2 separate regions of the Homo sapiens genome follow, and region 1 is linked to region 2. Evidence: fine-mapped expression QTL. A gene starts in region 2. The other region holds a variant in brackets. All regions are shown on one strand. Distances are from middle to middle.

Evidence for each region. PIP is the estimated chance that this variant, and not a neighbour inherited with it, causes the effect.
Region 1: its variant is fine-mapped to the expression of DCAF7 in whole blood (TOPMed, PIP 0.94).

What each region holds. Positions count from the first base shown.
Region 1 is chr17:63,772,785-63,783,008 of GRCh38, reverse strand. It overlaps CCDC47 (coiled-coil domain containing 47), which reads left to right and starts at 9,412. Exons shown (of 13, transcript NM_020198.3): 1 at 9,412-9,597. It overlaps DDX42 (DEAD-box helicase 42), which reads right to left and starts at 8,839. Exons shown (of 18, transcript NM_203499.3): 1 at 8,633-8,839. RefSeq lists a silencer at 8,511-8,800 and enhancers at 8,931-9,240, 8,953-9,537. The variant G/A (reference allele first, on the strand shown) is at 5,944.
Region 2 is chr17:63,545,439-63,555,662 of GRCh38, reverse strand. It overlaps DCAF7 (DDB1 and CUL4 associated factor 7), which reads right to left and starts at 5,186. Exons shown (of 7, transcript NM_005828.5): 1 at 4,848-5,186. The coding sequence starts at 4,985. It overlaps KCNH6 (potassium voltage-gated channel subfamily H member 6), which reads right to left. Exons shown (of 13, transcript NM_001278919.2): 13 at 8,936-10,054. The coding sequence ends at 9,761. RefSeq lists silencers at 4,693-4,842, 4,863-4,912 and enhancers at 5,063-5,142, 5,583-5,972, 5,272-6,256.

The DNA of each region.
Region 1 (10,224 bases), 230 kb before region 2:
GATCTGTTAAGTGTTACCACAGAGAACAAGAAATAGTTCAGTGCAGCTAGAGTTCAGTAGCACATTTGGGAAATTTGCAGGACACATGTTCAGAAAGACAGGTAGGGCCAAGATGAACAGCTTAGAAGGCTATGCTAACGACGTACCATACAAAACTGTATTCTGCCAGCTACAAAGAATCGTTAATTTTACACAGAAGGGAAATTTTCAGATCAGTGTTTTTGAAAGACAGAATGAGAGATACTCATGGTAGAGGCAAGGAAAGTAGAAGGCTGTTGCAGCAACGCAGGTATAAAGCGACAAAATTCTGAACTAAGAAAGCACCTGTGGGAAAGGAGAAACGGGGGATGGATCTGAGTTATTTATTTAGATATCTGAGGAAAGATCAATTAGGATTGTGTGACCAGTAATTGGTGTGGAAGCTAAGGAAGAAGAGTCTAGAATAACTTCAGAAGTTTCTGGCTTTAAAGACTGGGTGAACTGTGGAGCCACTAATGGAGATGGAAACCTAAAAGAGCCAGGTTTGCAAAATTAGGCAAAAGGTGAGTTCAGTATCTATGAGAGAGCTGAGTAGAGATGCCAAGCAGGGGCAGTAACTGCAGAGAGGGGTCCGGAGTGAGCTATAGATTTGATGTAAGCCATTTGCATTTGAGGTTACTGATGTAAATAAGCTAGCAGAGAGACCATGCAGAGTGAGAAAAGAAGTAAGACAATTCTTTCTTTTCTCCCCAAGACGGAGTCTTGCTCTGTCGCCCAGAGCTGGAGGGCAATGGCATGATCTTGGCTCACTGCAACCTCCGCCTCCTGAGTTCAAGCAATTCTCCTGCCTCAGCCTCCCGAGTAGCTGGGATTACAAGCACGCACCACCGTGCCCAGCTAATTTTTGTATTTTTAGTAGAGACAGGTTTCACCATGTTGGCCAGGCTGGTCTCAAACTCCTGACCTCGTGATCCACTGCGCCCAGCTGGTAAGACAATTCTTTTTTTATTTTTATTTTTTGAGACGGAGTCTCACTCTGTCGCCCAGGCTGGAGTGCAGTGGCACAATCTCGGCTCACTGCAAGCTCTGCCTCCCGGGTTCACACCATTCTCCTGCCTCAGCCTCCCCAGTAGCTGGGACTACAGGCACCTGCCACCAGGCCCGGCTAATTTTTTGTATTTTTAGTAGAGACGGGGTTTCACCATGTTAGCCAGGATGGTCTCGATCTCCTGGCCTCGTGATCCACCTGCCTCGGCCTCCCAAAGTGCTAGGATTACAGGCGTGAGCCACCACATCCGGCCCAGTAAGACAATTCTTAACATATATCACTATTTAGGAATGGGCAGAAAAAGAGAAGCTTACATGGAAACTTCAGATGGAACAGGGATTGGGGAAGGGAAAGAAAGAAGAGGGGGAAAGAAGGAAGGGGAGACAAGGAGGAACACGGGTGAGGAGAAAGAAGCTCTATAGGCAGAAAACTAAAGAGAAGTTAGGTAAGTTAAGAACTAAAATGTGCCAGGCACGGTGGCTCACGCCTGTAATCCCAGCACTTTGGGAGGCCAAGGCAGGCGGATCACAAGGTCAGGAGATCAAGACCATCCTGGCTAACACGGTGAAACCCCATCTCTACTAAAAATACAAAAAATTAGCCGGACGTGGTGGCGGGCACCTGTAGTTCCGGCTACTCAGGAGGCTGAGGCAGGAGAAAGGCATGAACCTGGGAGGTAGAGCTTGCGGTGAGCCAAGATCCGGCTACTACACTCCAGCCTGGGCGAGAGTGCGAGACTCTGTCTCAAAAAAACAAAACAAAAAGAACTAAAATTCTTCTGTTGTATAGGCAACCAGGAGTCATCAGTGAAAGCAGTTTCAATGGAGCAGTAGGGACAGGGTTGAGGAGTACCTGGCAAGTAAGTAGTAGAAGATGAAGACTAGGTCAAGAGGAGTCAAGAGTACTTTGTAGGCTGTTTATCAATGATAGGAAGGAGAAAGTGAAGCATTACCTACAGAAATTTTATTTTTTAAAGAAACATAGGCATGTTTATATGCTAAAGGGGAAAAACCAGTAAAGTCTGAAAAACTGAAGATGCAAAATGACAGAAAAAAGTCATAGGATTTCCAGAGAAGACCAGACACAATCAAAACTTTTAACAACAGGAGTAACTCACTCTTCCCCCAAAGCTAGAGGGAAGGAGTGAAAAGAACAAACATGACTATGAATCAGCCCTATTAAATAATCAAAAGGTTCATATTACAAAAGCAGCAAATCAACTCCTGCCACAAACAGGCAGGCAGTGAGACCTTGGGCAGGTGAGGGTTGCTTACTGGCTCTCAAGACTTAGCAAGTTGGAAAAGCGATCCTTTCCCTAGCTCATCTAGAACACACAGCTCATTGTCCCTCAATTACTGACTCTAGGAAGGCCAAGGAACTGTGCTTTCTATATACCCTGAGTAGAATGTTAGCTCTATGAGGGCATAGACTTGACTCAATTTGTCCAGCACTATATCCTTGGTGTCTGCATAGTACTCAAAAAATTTTGCTGTATGAATAAATGTAATGTATTCAGGCTCTCCAAAATTCATCCCAGTATTTATGAAAACTCTATTTTATTACTACAAACCTTGTTATCTAGCTAACCACCCTTCCTGATTAAATCTAAGCCAGATCATCCTCAATGGATCATTACTTAAGTCTCTTGACAACAGTTTTTCCTACTTTTTTTTTTTTTTGTTTTTTTGAGACAGTTTCGCTCTTGTTGCCCAGGCTGGAGTGCAATGGCGCAATCTCAGCTCACCACAACCTCCGCCTCCCAGGTTGAAGTGATTCTCCTGCCTCAGCCTCCCAAGTAGCTGGAATTACAGGCATGTGCCACCACGCCTGGCTAATTTTGTATTTTTAGGAGAGATGGGGTTTCTCCATGTTGGTCAGGCTGGTCTCAAACTCCCGACCGCCGGTGATCTGCCTGCCTTGGCCTCCCAAAGTGCTGGGATTACAGGCGTGAGCCACCGTGCCCGGCAGTTTTTCCTACTATTAAACCATGTAGTGTATATGGTTACTGAACCTTGACAATCACAGAGATTTGTGGGAGTATAGCTGACAGAAGAAGCAAAAGATAGCCACCCAAATTTCTATTTGGTTACTAAAAAAATAAAAGAGGCAGATGCAGTGGCTTACGCCTATATTCCCAGTACTCTGGGAAGCAGGAGGATGGCTTGAGGCCAGGAGTTTGAGACCAGCCTGGGCAACACAGCGAGACCCCATCTCTACAAAGAAAACAAAAAGAAAAAAAAAAGAGATACCTAGAATAGTCAAACTCAGAGACACAGAGTAGAAGAGTGGTTGCCAGGGGCTGCGAGGAGGGGAGAATAGGGTGTTATTGTTTAATGGGTACAGAATTTCAGTTTTACAAGATGAAAAGTGTCCTGTGGCTAGATTGTGGTGATAGTACCAAAAGAAGAAAACAAAATGAGGTGGGCACAGTGGCTCACAACTGCAGTCCCAGCACTTTGGGAAGCCAAGGCAGGAGGATGGCTCGAGCTCAGGAGTTAGAGGTCAGCCTGGACAACAATGAAAGACCTGATTTCTACAAAAAATACAAAAATTACCCAGGTGTGGTGGTGTGCACCTGTAGCCCCAGCTACTCGGGAGGTTGAGGTGGGAGGATGGCCTGAACCCAGGAGTCGGAGGTTGCAGTGGGCCGAGATCATGCCAATGCACTCCAGCCTGGGTGACAGAGTGAGACTGCGTCTCAAAAAAACAAAACCAAAACAAACAAAAAAAACACACTTGGGGAAATTCAACTGCATTTTTGTATTTTTTCTCTTAAAAAAGATTTCTTCATTTCCTGCTGGGGTGCCAAAAAATAAAAATTTAAAAAAGAACCCTTTTGAAATACCTAATTTGAAAAGAATTAGCTGAATAGAGCCATAAACAAAGTTTAATGAGTATTTGTTTAAAAAAGAACAACCCTAAGTGGTTCTTAGTAATAACATCCATTGTTTTATACTGACCAATAACCACTGATGATTTTGTTATGTGCCCAGTACTATGAGGGACATCCCTCACGTATACCCGCCTTTCCATCTCCACCTCCACTATTGCAATTATTTCCTAAAAAAAAATTTCTGATTATTGGGAGGCCGAGGTGGACGGATCACAAGGTCAGGAGATCAAGACCATCCTGGCCAACATGGTGAAACCCCATCTCTACTAAAAATACAAAAATTAGCCAGGCGTGATGGCGCGCACCCATAGTTCCAGCTACTTAGGAGGCTGAGGCAGGAGAATCTCTTGAACCCAGGACACGGAGGCTGCAGTGAGCCGAGATCGTGCCACTGCACTCCAGCCTGGATAACAGAGCGAGATGCTGTCTTAAAAAAAAAAAAAACTTTATTATCAAGCTCTCACAGCACTACTAGAGTGATCACTAAGTCAAAATATACTGAGTGCCTATTTTGTGCCAGTAACTGCTCTAAGGTGCTAAGGATACAGTAATGGAATCAGATGCAGCCATACTCAGAGTTCACAGTCTGGCCCAGGAGAAAGAAAAACTAAATCATGTAATTCCAGGTAGCAAAAGTGCTATGAAAAGCAAGCAAGAGGGTAAGAGGCAAGCTATTGCAGACTTAAGTCAGGCAAGGCCTCTCTGAGATGAATGACATTTGACAGGTAATCCTCCCCTGACTACTGTCCCAAGAATGTCTGTTTTATTGGAAAAGTAATGTGGATGTACATCCAGATGCTTCATCTAAAACCAGCAAATCTTCCATAGTCTATGAGAAGTGATTCTGTTTAGTAAAGCATAAAATGATGAAGTAATAGTGAGACACACAGTGAAAAGAGAAAAGCAAGTTTTACCTCCTTTGGTAGAGTAGCATAGTGTGTGTTAATACCGTGGAACCAGAAAAAGTCTCACAGAAGGGAGGTCAGTATTCAGATGCTTATCGAAAACCCTTTCCAGGTTCTTCCAGAACACACATTTCTGATTATGTCACTCTCCTCAATTCCATAGCTCTCCACAGTTAATCATGCTGGAATGAGACCCTCCATTGTGGCATCAAACTACTTTACCATTCATATTTCCCAGGGTCTCTCCACACGTACTCAGTTTTCCAGGAAAACAAGCACTCTAGTGAATCCTCTTCCCTCTAACTGGATCCCCTTCACATCAAATCTCTTTCCTATAAACTGTGAGTACCTACCAAAGTCCTATCCTTCAAAGCATATCTCAAATACCAACTCCTAAAGACATGAATATGATATCCCCAAAGAAATGGCATCTCCTGGCTGGGCACGGTGGCTCACGCCTGTAATCTCAGCACTTTGGGAGGCCGAGACGGGTGGATCACGAAGTCAGGAGATCGAGACAATCCTGGCTAACATGCTGAAACCCCATCTCTATTAAAGATACAAAAAAATTAGCCAGGCGTGGTGGTGGGCACCTGTAGTCCCAGCTACTCCGGAGGCTGAGGCAGGAGAATCACTTGAACCCGGGAGACGGAGCTTGCAGTGAGCCAAGATCGCGCCACTGCACTCCAGCCTGGGCGACAGAGTGAGACTCCGTCTCAAAAAAAAAAAAAAAGAAAGAAAAAGAAATGGCATCTCCTTCCTCAAACTCCCTTTCCAGTCCAACTCCGTATTATAGGATTCATGGCTGAAGAAACAGGCTTATTCACTTTTCTCTTATAGCATGTTTTCAATATTAGATACTCATTTATTCAATATGTAAAAGACTAAAGGAGATCTACAACTAGGCTGAAGAGAAACAGTCAAGATGGCATCAAGTCCTATTTGGTATGGTTCTAGGCACTAAATCCTATGGCTGGCTGGGCAAGGTGGCTCACACCTGTAATCCTCGCCCTTTGGGAGGCCAAGGTGGGAGGATCACTTAAGGCCACGAGTTTGAGACCAGCCTGGGCAACACAATAAAACCCTGTCTTTACAAAAAAATTTAAAAAATTAGCCAG[G/A]CATGGTGGCACACGCCTGTAGTCCTAGCTGCTCAGGAGGCTGAGGCAAGAGGATTGCTTGAACCCAGGAGTTCCAGGTTACAATGAGCTGACTGGACCACTGCACTCCAACCTGGGCAACACAGCAAGACAGTCTCTAAAAAATAAATAAAACACGGTGGTTTCCTAGGAAATCTTAACAGAATAGTAAAGTAGCACAGGCTATGTGTAAACTATCTTTGCTACTAACTTGATATGAACCTCAGGGAAGTTATTTAGCTTCTCTGGGTTCAGTTTCCTCATCTATAAAAAATGGTAAGAGGCTGTGTGTGGTGGCTCACGCCTGTAATCCCAGCACTCTGGGAGGCTGAGGCAGGCGGATTACTTGAGCTCAGGAGTTCAAGACCAGCCTGGGCAACACAGCCAGACACCATCTCAAAAAAAAAAAAAAAAGATGAGACTATCACCTATCTCAAGAGTTGGCGTGAAAAATTAAGTTCATACACAAAAATGTACTTGTTCAATATGTCAGCTACCATCGTGTTTTTCATTATTACATTATTTCTGAAGAACCAATTTCTTCATCGGTAAATTGAGACTATCAGACTTCTTTCAACTCAGGTATTTCATACATAAGCGCCACAAGAACACTGAAGATGTCAGAGATCACCATGAGCTAACAAGCAAGGGCAAGTGTCATAACAGAGTCAGAAGCCAGGCTAGGCACAGAAAGATGAAAGCTGGGTAGAGACGTGCAGACGAAGACATTCCAGGGAGAAAGACTGAACTAGCAAAGGCTAGGAAGTGAGAATAAATGTGGAACACACTTATAAAGGAAGACAATTTAGCTAGTTTGTGTTTTCGGCAATGGCGGAAAATAAGATATGATCTAAATGACTTTAAATATAGTGGACTAAAAACAACTGATTATATAAGCCACATTACTTTATCACTTGTATTTTTGGAGGTGGAAGGAAGAGTTCTAGTGACAGTGATTAGCATCTACTCTACATATACTTTGAGAGTACCTCACACACTATATACAGGTCAGTTCTTTGATGAGAATCTAAATAAAAACTCAAGAACGTAATCACATTCTTCTAAACCAAATACAAGTAAATGCTAGGTTATGGTTATTTTAGAAGCATCCCTTCTCCTGTCAGCTTAAAGCAACTAAGAGCTGATTATATGACTATCAATGTAACAAAACAAATTTAAATAACTGCACTCCTCTCTTATATTAAATTGTTACAATATAAATCAGATATTATCATTCCTCTGATCGAAACCCTCAGATCCTTCCTAAGTAACAGCCTAAAAGGCTTTGGTTGTTCCGCTCACTCCCTTCCCCCAATTCTTCCCTGACCTTATCTCCTAATACTCCCTCAGCTCACAGTGCTCCAAACGCGTTGGTCTTCACACTCTTAACGGGCCAGCTTTGTCCTCCTCAAGGCTTTTATGTTTGTTATTCTCTAGCTTGGAACGTTCCTTTCCCCAGATAAACGTAGGCTCTCACTCCACCTTCTAGTCCGCTTAAATATCAGCTTGTCTGTATGGACTTCCCTGACCACTTTATTGCAAATTCCAACACCACCACCTCCCCAACCCCCTTTCCAGCTTTCTTTTCCCTAAGATACTGATCATCTTCTAACATTCAGTATAATATATGTATCTGTTTGCCTCTCCTCCCGCTACTAGAAAGTTAAGTTCCCCAAAGGCAGGGGTCTAACACCTATCCCTATCACCTAGAACGGCGCTAGAGAATAGGCACCAATAAAAATACCCCTTGAATGAACGAATTGCACATTAGGCTACACAATGCTTCTTCCAGGTACAGGAAGATATATTTTCTTTTCCCAGCTGTCAAAATATAAACATTAATTTTTGTACGAAACACTCATTGCTCACCTCTTATGTGCCAGAAATGAGCTTGGCTCTGCAAAGCGCCTTAAGACATAGTCCCTGCGCTTGAGGAAGTCCTGGGTGTGTATACGAGAGAGGACAGACATAGAAACATCATTGACAAAAAGAAAACACAGGGAAGCCACAAGAAATTGGATAACTGCCTATAGGAGTGGGGGCAAGAGGGAAATTCTCAGTGATGAGAATGTAATTCCCCAAAACTCTCGACAGCTTCTCCTGTTTTTGATGCATATGTTTGCAATTCCATGTAAATTATTTATTCACATCAGATACGCTCTCAAGTAGGCCGCAAAAAAGTTTGTGTGACTACAGTGATGCTAATAATCGACCTACTCAACGCTGCACAAAGATCATCGCCTATATCTTTTCACTCCTCTCATTTGGCAGCTTTTGCCTCTCAGGACCCCAAATTCGGAGGCCTGCATCTCCCAAGCGCTGCCTCCTTGGGTCAGAATTCTCCCCGCGCTATTCCTGCCCTGGAGCCGGGCACCCTGCAAATCCTTTTCCTAGGCGAGGGGGCGCCGCCTCCGGAAAGCCGCCAACTGGGCCTCGGTAAGACTTGTGAGGGAAGCGGGAGCTGTGGGAGGGCGACGCGGCTAGGAAGGAACCCTAGAGGCCTCAGCCCCCACTCCCACCCCTTCCCGGCACCCCGGCCGCCGGTGCCCCGAGGCTCTGCCGACTCTTTGTTAAGCGAGGCCGCGGTTCCTCCGCCCTCGCTAGGCCCAGCAGTTGCCTCCAGTGCCCCCAAGGACTGGCGGCCTTGCGTCCAGAAACCCCACGCACAAACCTGCTGCTATGGCTGCAGCGGCAGCTGCTACAACCGCGGGCGCGGAGCGAATCCCGGAGCCCAAAGTACGCGCTGTCCCGGCCCGGTCCCGCCGCGCTCCTTCCTCTCCGCCCCCTTCGCCGCCGCCGCCGCCACCACCACCACCGCCGCCGCCACCGCCACCACCGCCACCGCCTCACGGCCCGTTGCTGAAGGGGGGAGGGGAACAAAAACGCGACATGCGCAGTGAGGAACGCGCGGGCAGAAGGGCGGGGCCGGGGCTACGGCTCCCGGAAGGCGCCTGACCTTAAAGCTCCAGAACGCCTCACAGGCTCCTCAGATACTCTGACGGGAAACTGCAGTTGGGTGGACAGTGTTCATGACCCATCTAGAAAGTGGGTCTGCGAATGAAGAAAAAGTGGCGTCAAGGGGCTAGCCAAAAATCCCAAGAGAAAACGGGTTGGACAGAAACCATATTTACATGAACATGCCTATAGTTTAAACTGTTGCATATACTACTAGAGCGACACTCTTGCCTCTGGCCACGTGGTCCCACACAGCATGGCCACCTTTAGCTTCCGGAGCACCGGTTCCGTGTGACGTCAACTTGACGGAATCCTAGGTAGGAGGATTGGGATAGGCGAGGGCAGTTCCGGCCCAGGGGCGGGGATTATGTAATTTTCCCAAAAGCCCCACCTCGCCTCAGCCGGGCGGGAGAGAGGGAGGTCTCGCGCTTTCCCCGGGGTTGCGTCCCGCCCCGCAGGCTGCGCGCAGGCGCTGACGAGCCGCTCGCATTCTACGTAACGGACGGCGGAGGCTACGTGAAGAGAGGCGCGGCGTGACTGAGCTACGGTTCTGGCTGCGTCCTAGAGGCATCCGGGGCAGTAAAACCGCTGCGATCGCGGAGGCGGCGGCCAGGCCGAGAGGCAGGCCGGGCAGGGGTGTCGGACGCAGGGCGCTGGGCCGGGTTTCGGCTTCGGCCACAGGTAAGGAGCGGGCCAGGACGCGCTCGTCGGCGTGGCCGGGCCAGGCCGAGCGGTGACTCCGAGTTGCTTGGCCTGTAGCCCGGTCCGGTTGAGATAATTGTAATGGTTTGGGGGAACTTTCCCACGGAGCTGTGAGCAAATGATAGCCAAAAGGGCAGAGTTAGAGGAAATGTACAGTGTGTGCCGGAGGATGACATTAGGATGTATTGATTCTCTTGGGTGGGGAGAAACTAGGCAAAGGGGTTTAATAGAAGCAAAAACCTCTGTGGCCAGTCTCTTCTGGAGGTTTCTAAAATGAAACGTGTTTGTATCCAACACATATAAAGAGACAGAGGAAAGTCTGCATGATTTCCAGAATACTCGTTTTGGCCGTTGTCAGGAAGACCTAATCTAAAATGACAACAAGGAATGATGGCCTCACTCAGTCCTCTTTCCTCAAGTCTAGACTCAGTCGCTGAGGAACTATTGGATGAGCTTGCAGAAAATAATCAAACCAGACTTGTTAGCGCTTGTGTGAATTTTCCTTGGTCCTGTGTTGCTTGCTTCAGGAGTCATAGAGGCTGGGTGGTCTGGCAAGGACTTGTGCATTTGAGAACTGACAGGTGCAGCGGAGACTTCTAAGAGGGA
Region 2 (10,224 bases):
CTCGTGGAACACTGCGACATTCTAAATATCTATCAAAAGTACTGATGTGTACCAAAACACATTGTGCCTAAAACACATGAGTATGTGTTCAATACAGACCGGCTAAATTAATGAGCAAATGAATGATAATCCTGAAGGGCTACCGCAAATACCAAGATGAAAAATTAAATACCGGAGTCGAAATAATTATGCATCAAACATATAAAGTAATTGTATTAAAAACCTCAGAGGAATCAACACAGGCTGGTGAGGTGAGTACCCATCCCAGTGTTTCAAGTACAAGGTGGTCATGCCACCCAGACTCACTACTAGGATTCTCCAAAAAGCATCAGATATACCTACAGTCTCTCCTCAGAACCTCAAAAATACTCTCTGGATGCCAAATCTTAGAGCACAAGTAGTCAGTTAAATACTGGGGCAAACTAAATCCCAATCACACTGCCATCTTTATCAAAACCAACCCTGAAACATGCACTTAAGTGGAACAGAAGCCCAGGAACTGCTACCCAGCTTTTCCCAATAAAAGAGGGGAAATAACACCTGGGCCTAAAGACCAAACATATTGTCAAAACACAGGAGAAATGCCAAATTCTTATATCTGACTTACGTAGGTAAGCCAGGTAGAACAAGAGAAAATGGATTTAAACTAGAAAATTACACTACTTGGAGTCTGACTATAAGAATCTGCTAGACTACAAAATGAGTTGGGTTGAAAGAGATAAGGGAATTTTCCCCCCAGAGTCTTTAAAAGGCAGAGAATGAAATAATGACCTTTTCAGCTACCTTTCTGACCTCTTATTCCTGAATCCTTTCTGGAAAATACAAAAGTAAATTTACTAAACAGCCATATAATTCTCTTTGGTTATATTTCAATTACAGGTACAGTAATGATAATAATTAAATAACAGCTAACATCTCTATATGGCTTATTCCACACCGGGTGGCGTTCCTAAGTCCATTACATATATTAACTCATTTAATCTTTGAACAAGGTAGATGTTATTATTTATTGCCCTAATTTTACAGATGATGAAACTGAGACACAGAGGATAACTTGCCCAAGGCAATACAAAACTGGGAAGTGGCAGGACTTAGATAACCCAGGCTAATCACAGAGCTTTTTTCATGGGTGAACTTGGATGGAAGGGCAGAACCAATGTTTAGGAGCATGCAGACACAAAAAGATCACATTCTCGCCTCTGGCCAACAGATGCCAAGGCAGCTCCAGGGCCATGTTCTGAGAGTGCCATCTGGACCACTCAACCACTAGTGTGTCTGTCACCTATCTCCAAGTCTGTTAACTTCAGGGGTGGAGCCCAGGAATGTGCAGCTCCCTCAGGATTCTCACACACTAAAATTTAGAGAACCTGTTGCTCCAACACCAATCTTGCTGTATCCCTCAAGAGACCACAACAAAAGAAGGTAGAAACATAATAACCAATAATGAGGCTGTTTTTTGAGACAGGGTCTGGCTCTGTCGCCCAGGCTGGAGTGCAGTGGCGTGATCTTGGCTCACTATAACCTCTGCCTCCTGAGCTTAAAGCATCCTCCTACCTCAGCTTCCCAAGTAGCTGGTACTACAGGCAGATGCCACCATACCTGGCTAATTTTTTAATGTTTTTGTAGAGTCAGGGTTTCTCCATGTTGCCCAGGTTGGTATCAAACTCCCGGGCTCAAGCGATTCTCCCATCTCAGCCTCCCAAAGTGCTAAGATTACAGGTGTGAGCCACCACGCCCAGCCCTATAATGGGGCTTTTTATTCCAAGTGTAGTTGATAGAATCTGTTTCTTTACTCTGCAACAATTCCCAAATTTATTCACATGAAGGAACACCTGGAAGTCAATTTCTTAAACTGTTGATAGACTTAATTCTATGGATCAACTAGGTACAATTTTACGTTAGGAAAACATGATTATGCTAATGCAAATTTTTAAAAATTACAACCATGTTTTCTTAGTGAATGTCTCCACACTAAAAAGATGACCACTTCTAGCCTTTTTCATCAGTGTTAATTTGCTGTGTCCATTTTACTTTATCCTCTGCTGGTGACCACTATCCATGGCAAGCAGGAACCAATGGTCTAAAAATTCCAACCAATAATTCTAAAGTTCCTCCAAATTATGAAGTCGACCACCTCTTTGGCAGGGTTTCTCACAAACTTAGCCTGAGAATCACTTTAAGGCAGGATTTGCTGCTCACCAACCACTACACATACTTCTCTCTCGCAGGGTTTCTTAACTTGGGGTCTGTGAACTTGAATTGGAAAATTATCCCCATATTTCCATTAACCTCTAGCTAAATTTTTTTGTTTCCTTCAATTACAAATGGGGTCAGGTGCTCACAGTGGTATGACTGTCTGTGACTTTGCCAGCAAGAGAATTTTTTTTTCCCACCACAGCACAGTTGTTAAGCATCTTGAAATGCTGTTTACCCTTGTCACCATTTCAAAATTACATTAATAATTACAGTGGATGGTGTAAATCAATAAGTTAATTTATTAAAAGTACATATGACTACATCACCACTTTAAAAAACATGTTGTTTATATCTGTAGTGCAACATAAGTGGTTTCTTTTGTAATTCTATGTGTTTTATGCATTTGAAAACATAACTATGAGAAGGGGTCTATTGGTATCAGATGACCATGGCACACAGAATTTAAGAACCCTGATCTACTGATAGGTGGAGGCACAAAAATGATTTTAAGACAGCGCATTGCCTACATCATGTGAGTTAAGATATAGTTAACTGCTAATGCTGTTGATAGTGGGGTTATTAGTTTGCATTTCACTGCTAAGCCATGCTACCTGTGTGCCTGTCACAAAGAGGAAGCTCCAGATAGTTGCTAAATGAAAGGACAAACTGGGGTAGAGTTCCTGCAACAGCAGTTTGACTACTCCACTGATCCTACCAAGCAGCCTAACTGTGGCTCAGTTTCTCCTCTCTGAGGAATAGGAGTAACTATTGCTTACCCAACGACCCTGGAAAAACTTACAAGAAAAAACATTAATTTGTGTAAAAAGACTTAAGCCCTTTGAAAGACATACTTTTTTATTTTCCACGTGTATCTTTAAACAATAGTTCTAGTGGTCTTAATTTTATTAACACGGTGTCCACATCAGAATCGTGAATCCCATTTCCAGTTCTGCTGTCCACTATGGGCCATAAGGAAGAAAGAAGCAACAGAGGAAAGAAAGCTCTATCTCGCCCGGGCAATGGGTGGACTTAAAGATCAGTGCATATTCCTTGGATTTGTTTGTAAATTGTTCATGTATGTGTAATGTCTGGACAATGAGAATCCATAGCTTTCATCAGCTTCTCAAAGTGGACTCCAAAGAGGACCTACTCTAGAGAAACAAATGTGCTCCTGAAAAACTGTAAACAAACTGTGAAATGTTCAAATTTCTTTTTTACAAGACCCTCACATGTAAACCAGAACCCCTTCCGTACAAACTGTGGGTCACAGATAATAAAACAGGCCTGTGCAACATCTCACAGCTAGTCAATAACCAGACAGGACCACCTGGTTTCTTCCCCCCTGCATCAGCCTTGTCACTGAACAGTTTTATTCTTCTTTTTTTTTCTGAGACAGAGTCTCACTCTGTCGCCCAGGCTGGAGTGCAGTGGCGCCATCTCGGCTCACTGCAACCTCCGCCTCCCAGGTTCAAGCAATTCTCCAGCCTCAGACTTCCGAGTAGCTGGGACTACAGGCGCACTAAGCTACGCCCGGCTTTTTTTTTTTTTTTTTTTTTTTTTTTTTTTTTTTTTTTTGTATTTTAGTAGAGACGGGGTTTCACCGTGTTACCCAGGCTGGTCGCGAACTCCTGAGCTCAGGTAATCCGCCCGCCTCGGCCTCCCAAAGTCCTGGGATTACAGGCGTGAGCCACCGCGCCCGGCCAGTTTTACTCTTCTTAAATCTGATGTTCATGGCATAAAGCAGGAGTAGTGGCTTTAAATATCACTAGCCACAGCTTTCAGTTGCTCTGATCGCTATCATTCACAACTTTGAGTAAAAGGAAGAAAGAAAATTCTTCCAACTGACTTATTCAACTTTCAAAAATGAGTTTGTTGCAATGCCAGTTTAAAAGCTCCCCTACTACACCGTGCTTCTATAAAGGATTCTCAAATTGATGTATGTCCAGCAAGACTTACTACTAAAGGTCACACAACTGTACTAGCACGAAACAAGCCAAGAGATAAGGCCCTGTCATCCTTCTGTGTTCAGGAAACAACGGCGGGATCATGCCACAGGCCAAGATTTCCAAAGAGATTGCTTTAGAGAGAATGGATATCAGGAAGCAAGAGCAACAGTAATTCTGGCAGAAGGGCTAGGATCCATGAGTACCCGGGGGGGGTGGGAGTAGGGGGCGGGGAAGCTTGTACAATAGATCGTCTTAATAGAAATCTAGTGTGGCCAGGAGTGCACGACCACCAATAGAAGCGCCTGCATTTTCCTTCACAGCTATCACTCTCTCTTCCCTTCCCCGCCCACCAACGAAAGCAATGCGGCAGGAGTGGAGAGCACGGGATGAATAAATGGAGTATCTTTGGGGCGTAAACCCGGTTTTAAGACCTGTTTCCACCCCGAAATAGCTGCCTGACCCAGGCAAGTCACAAAACCGTGCCTCAGTTTCCCCACTACACTGCCGACTACACAAGAATGCTGCCTGGATTAAAGGAGACAGACAACGAGTACGAAACCTTCAGCACAGGGCCAGACAGAGGAACCGCTCCGTGGCCCTAGGGCGAGTCCGCAAGAGGGTTCTGAGGCCTGGGCTCCGGCCCGGAAAGGGCGCTCCCGGGGCCCGCTCCCCGCCAGCTGGGTTCCGAGCCCCTGCCCGGCCCACCTTGTTGTTGTACTCCTCCACGAAGCTGCCCAGCGCCAAGCGAAAGCGCTTATCGGGCCGCACACTCCAGTTCATCGCGTAGACTGTCCAGGGCGCTTCATACTTGTAGATCTCCTTCCGTTTGCCGTGCAGGGACATGGTGGCCACGGGGCCGCAGTACGGGCCGGGTCAACAGTGGGCTGCGGCGGGCGGGGAGCCGAGCCTGAGATCTATGGGTCCGAAGGGAGGAGAGGAGGGGGCGGGCAGGAACGGCCTAACCCGGAAGCGGGGATGCGGCGACAAACAACGACGACGGCCGAGCCCGACCCCTAGTTTCAAACCAGCTTGGGAACGGACGACAACCACCTTCCGTTTTGGGACGCCGCCCCGCCCTCTCGGAACGGAAGCCGCCGGACCCCCGCAGCGGCACCGGCCGTTGGTTGCCTGACACGTCCTTTCGAAAGGATTCTTTCTTGTCATTGGTTATTGCGGCCGTAGCGTCTGAAATCTCCTCGCTATTGGGTTAAATGTTTGTCATTGCAACTACTCGCCCCGCCCAACTCTCGGAGGCAGGCGCTTTGGCAGCCCCAAAGGTCATTGGTTGGCCAAGATGTCAGTCAGGCAGATAACGGCTCAGTGCGGGTGGTGGGGGCGTGGGTGGCCTGGAGGCGAGCGTGCTGTAGCAGCGGGCCTCCAAGTTCTAGGCCAAGTCTCTGAGAGTGAAACCGTCTGTGACCTGCGCTGACTTCCCCTCCGCTGCTGCTGTTCTGAGCGGCCTCTCCACGCTGTCGAGTAAAAGTACAATTCTGCCTTAGTGGAAGACCTACTGACTTTCGCGGGACAGAGCCCTGCGGCCTGGCAGCCTGGCCTGCGCCCAACGGGTACCACCTTCCCGCCCCATCTCTTCCCAGGGCCCTTTTAACCCGAAAGCTGCTCTCTCCGTGCCTCAGGGACAGGCTTCGGGCGCGCAGATGCGCTCAGGGCCAGGCCAGCTTGAGTCAGGCCCTCCCGCGCTTTCCTGCAGGATCTAGAAATGTCCCCGAATTCTGGGGTAGGCACCGACCCGACCAGCTTGGCTCTGTTTTTGTCAGTTCCCATCCTGTACCCTTCCCGCCGTGGATCCCAACGCAAATGCTAATCCAGCCCCAAAGGTATCTGTGCCTGTGAGTTGGAAAAGGGGAAGGGCCAGAGACCAAATGACACCTTTATATAAATTATTTCCAATTCTCAGCTTTCATCAAAATTGAAGGAGGTTTGTATTGAATTGTTGGATGATAACATTAAATACTTTTTTTTTTTTTTTTTAAAGACAGGGTCTTGCCCTGTCACCCAGGCTGGAGTGCACTGGTGTGATAAGGGCTCACTGTAGCCTGGACTGCCTAGGTTCAAACGATTCCCCCACTTTAGCCTCTGGAGTAGCTGGAACCACAGACATTTGCCACCACACCTAGCTATTTTTAAATTATTATTTGTAGAGATGAGATCTCTCCATGTTGCCCAGGCTGATCTCGAACTCCTGGGCTCAAGCGATCCTCCCACATCAGCATCCTAAAGTACTGGGATTACAGGCTTGAGCCACCATTCTGGGCACTAAATATAATTTTTAATGATAAATGATTTTTCCACCTCCCAGGTTCAAGTGATTCTCCTGCTTCAGCCTCCCGAGTAGCTGAGATTACAGGGGTGCACCACCACAGCCAGCTAATTTTTGTATTTTTAGTAGAGATGGGGTTTCACCATGTTGGCCATTCTGGTGTCGAACTCCTGACCTCAAATGATCTTCCAGCCTCGGCCTCCCAAAGTGTTGGGATTACAGGCGTGAGCCACCGCATCTGGCCAAGAAATCCTCTTTTTTTTTTAATTTTATTTTATTTTTGAGATGGAGTCTCACTCTGTCGCCCGGGCTGTAGTGCAGTGGCACTATCTCGGCTCACTGCAACCTCTGCCTTTAGGGTTCAAGTGATTCTCTTGCTTCAGCCTCCTGAGTAGCTGGGATTACAGGCGCCCGCCACCATGCCCAGCTAAAGGAAATCCCCTGTAAGGAGGAAAGTTTAAAAACAAATTTAAAAAGGAAAGAAAAAGACGTACAAAATTCGCGGTACCTTGTCTTATTCTAATAAAAAATAATGATATTTATCCACAGATATAGGAACTAACGGGGGGAGGAAATTTTCTCTTTTATGACGTATATTTCCAATAAAATTTTAGTTTTTATTAGAAAATTGAATATATATTTATGTTGTTTTGAACAACTGTACTACTAATAGATGTAACCCTTAAAGCCTTATTAAGGTTACAAAAATTAATTTTAAAATGTCAATTAATTTATACACATTCGTTTTGAGGCAGGGTCTTGCTCTGTTATCCAGGTGGTGGTGCAGTGGGGCAAACAGTGCTTATTGCAGCCTTGACCTCCCGGGCTCAAGCAATCCTCCTGCCTCCTTTATTTTTTGTAGAGACAAGATCTTGCTATGTTGCCCAGGCTGGGTTCAACTGGTCCTCCCACCTCAGCCTCCCAAAATGCTGGGATTATAGGCATGAGCCACCCCATGACCGACCTACTTTTTTTTTGAAACGGAGTCTTGCTCTGTTGCCCACGCTGGAGTGCAGTGGCACGATCTTGGCTCACTACAAGCTCCACCTCCTGGGTTCACGCCATTCTCCTGCCTCAGCCTCCCGAGTAGCTGGGACTACAGGCACCTGCCACCACGCCTGGCTATTTTTTTTGTATTTTTAGTAGAGATGGGGTTTCACCCTGTTAGCCAGGATGGTCTTGATCTCCTGACCTCGTGATCTGCCCACCTCAGCCTCCCAAAGTGCTGGGATTACAGGTGTGAGCCACTGCGCCCAGCCACTTTTTTTTTTTTTTTTAAGAGACCGAGTCTTGCTCTGTTACCCGGGCTGGAGTACAGTTGCATGAACATGGCTTACTGCAGTCTTGACCTCTTAGGTTCAAGTGACTCTCCCACCCAAGCCTCCCAGCAAGCCCTGTAGTACCTGGGACTACAGGTGCGCATCACAATGCTTGGCTAATTAAAAAAAAATTGTTTTGTAGAGACCAGGTTGAGCTATGCTGCCCAGGCTGGTCTTGAATTCCTGGCTCAAGCAATCTTCCAGCCTCAGCCTCCCAAAGTGTTGGGATTACAGGCATGAGTGAGCCACTGCACCCAGCCTGTATACATATTTGTGTTGCAAACATATGATAGGGTGATCAATATTAGGCTTTGAAGCATACCAATAAATTACATGTAGGATAAAACTATGGGAGGAATAAGTGGGAATTATGAGAAAAGAAAAAAGAACGATGTTAAAGAAGGGTTTCTTGTGTTTTTAAAATAGATGGTGGTGGCTCTCAAATCGCTGCTATTTGGGTAGAAATGGGTCAATACAAATGCCCCGTGTTGGGCACGGGGATGATTTTTAAAATTTTCATTTTGAGACAGGGTCTTATTCCCTTGCCCAGGGTGTGAGTTCAGTGATGCAATCACGGCTTACTGTAACCTTGGACTCCTGGCCTCAAGCAGTCCTCCTGCCTCATCCTCCTCCCAAAGCCCTGGGATTACAGGCATGAGCCACTACACCTGGCCTCTTTTTTTATTTTTATTTTCTTTTTAACTGAGGTATAATTTACACACAGAAGCACACTCTTTCGCAACCTGAACACCTGTAACCAGCACCTAGATCAGGAAACAGAACAGTACCTGCACCTCAGAAATCCCCCTCATGTTTGGGTGTCTTAGTCTCTCTGCTACTGATCCCACATCTGTAAAATGGGGATAATAATACCAACCCGTTGGGGTTGTTTTGAGGATTAGATGAACAAGTATCTGCAGAGCTGTCAGCACAGTGCCTGGTACGGGGCGAGTGCTACCGAAGTGTTGGCTGTTGTCATGATCCCCTAGGGCCACCAAGCCAGTGCCTCTGCTTCCCTTCACCTCGGCCTAACAGCCCCAGGCTCCAGGAGCCTCTGGGCCCAGCAGAACCACCTTCAGGTCCCCAACACACTGGATATGGTGGAGGGTAAGTCTGCAGCTCCTTACAAGAAGGGTTTGGAGAAAGCCACAGCACAGTCAAAGACGTAATGACCTTCAGATAAGTTACACACCCAGTCCAACATGAAATGTGTACTTTATTAGCTGTGTGACACTCCACTGCCCTCAAGAGACCCAATGTCACAGAACCATCAGGAGCAGAGGGCTGGAGGACTGTCCTGACATGTCTGCCACAGAACATACCTCCATCTCCAGCCAGGTCAGAGGCTCATGGTAAGAGTTCTGACCAACCCCGGGCCTTGGTGCTGAGCCATGAGGTGCTGGAGGGTTCTGAGCTGGGAGGCTCAGAGCAAGGTACTCATGTAGATCAGAAACCTCTTTCTTCACTGCCCCCTCAATCCTGTAAGCTGCCTCCACACCTGAGACTCTCCCACCCTGCACCAGGCTTGCTGTTTAAATGGAGCCCTGGAGGAGGCTGGGAAAAGTCGTGAGCTTCTTCACCCACGCCATCCTGGGTCACCTGGATCAGCAGTTTGTAGCTACTTTAGGAGAGGCCCATCTGGGGGGCTGTCTGCCTCCCCAAGATCTTTTTTTTTTTTTTTTTTGAGTTGGAGTCTCACTCTGTCACCCAGGCTGGAGTGCAGTGGTGCGGCCTCGGCTCCCTGCAACCTCCACCTCCCGGGTTCATGCCATTCTCCTGCCTCAGCCTCCCCAGTAGCTGGGATTACAGGCGCCTGCCACCACGCCCGGCTATTTTTTTTCTTTTTTAATTTTAGTAGAGGTGGGGTTTCACCGTGTTAGCCAGGATGGTCTGATCCGCCCGCCTCGGCCTCCCAAAGTGCTGGGATTACAGGCGAGCCACTGCACCCGGCCACCTCCCCAAGATCCTTAACTCTCACCTTGCCCACCTTCAGTCCCCTCATGGTGTCTTTATCTTGGAGTTCAGTGGCCCCAACTCCCTGCAAATCCAGGATCTGAGCCATGTCTCTGGAAGTCCAGCTGCTTGGGAACAGAGCCAAGGTGTTCAGGGAGGGAGGAGAAGCAGGGACCACAGATGAGTCCTTGTACTTCCAGGGGATGTAGAGGTGAGGCTAGGGGTGGCCAGAGCCCCTCAGGCTGTTCCTGTTCTGAGGATGGTGCCAGAGTTTTGTCCGTTGCCACAGCCAGGTGAGGCATCCTGGGGGAGGAGTTCCTGTGCTTTGGACTACAGTCATCCAAGTCTCCATAGCTTGGGGTCTGGGAGGAGCAAGAAAGAGGGATGCACCCCAGGCCAGGCTGCGGGTTAATCCACCCTGATTTCAGGGATGGGATCAGGCAAAAATTGTACCTGCCCTTCCCACACCTCAGGGTCCTGCTGCCCTGGCCCCAGCTGCAGGCTCTGGAGTCACATTCTGGGCTTTGCCAGC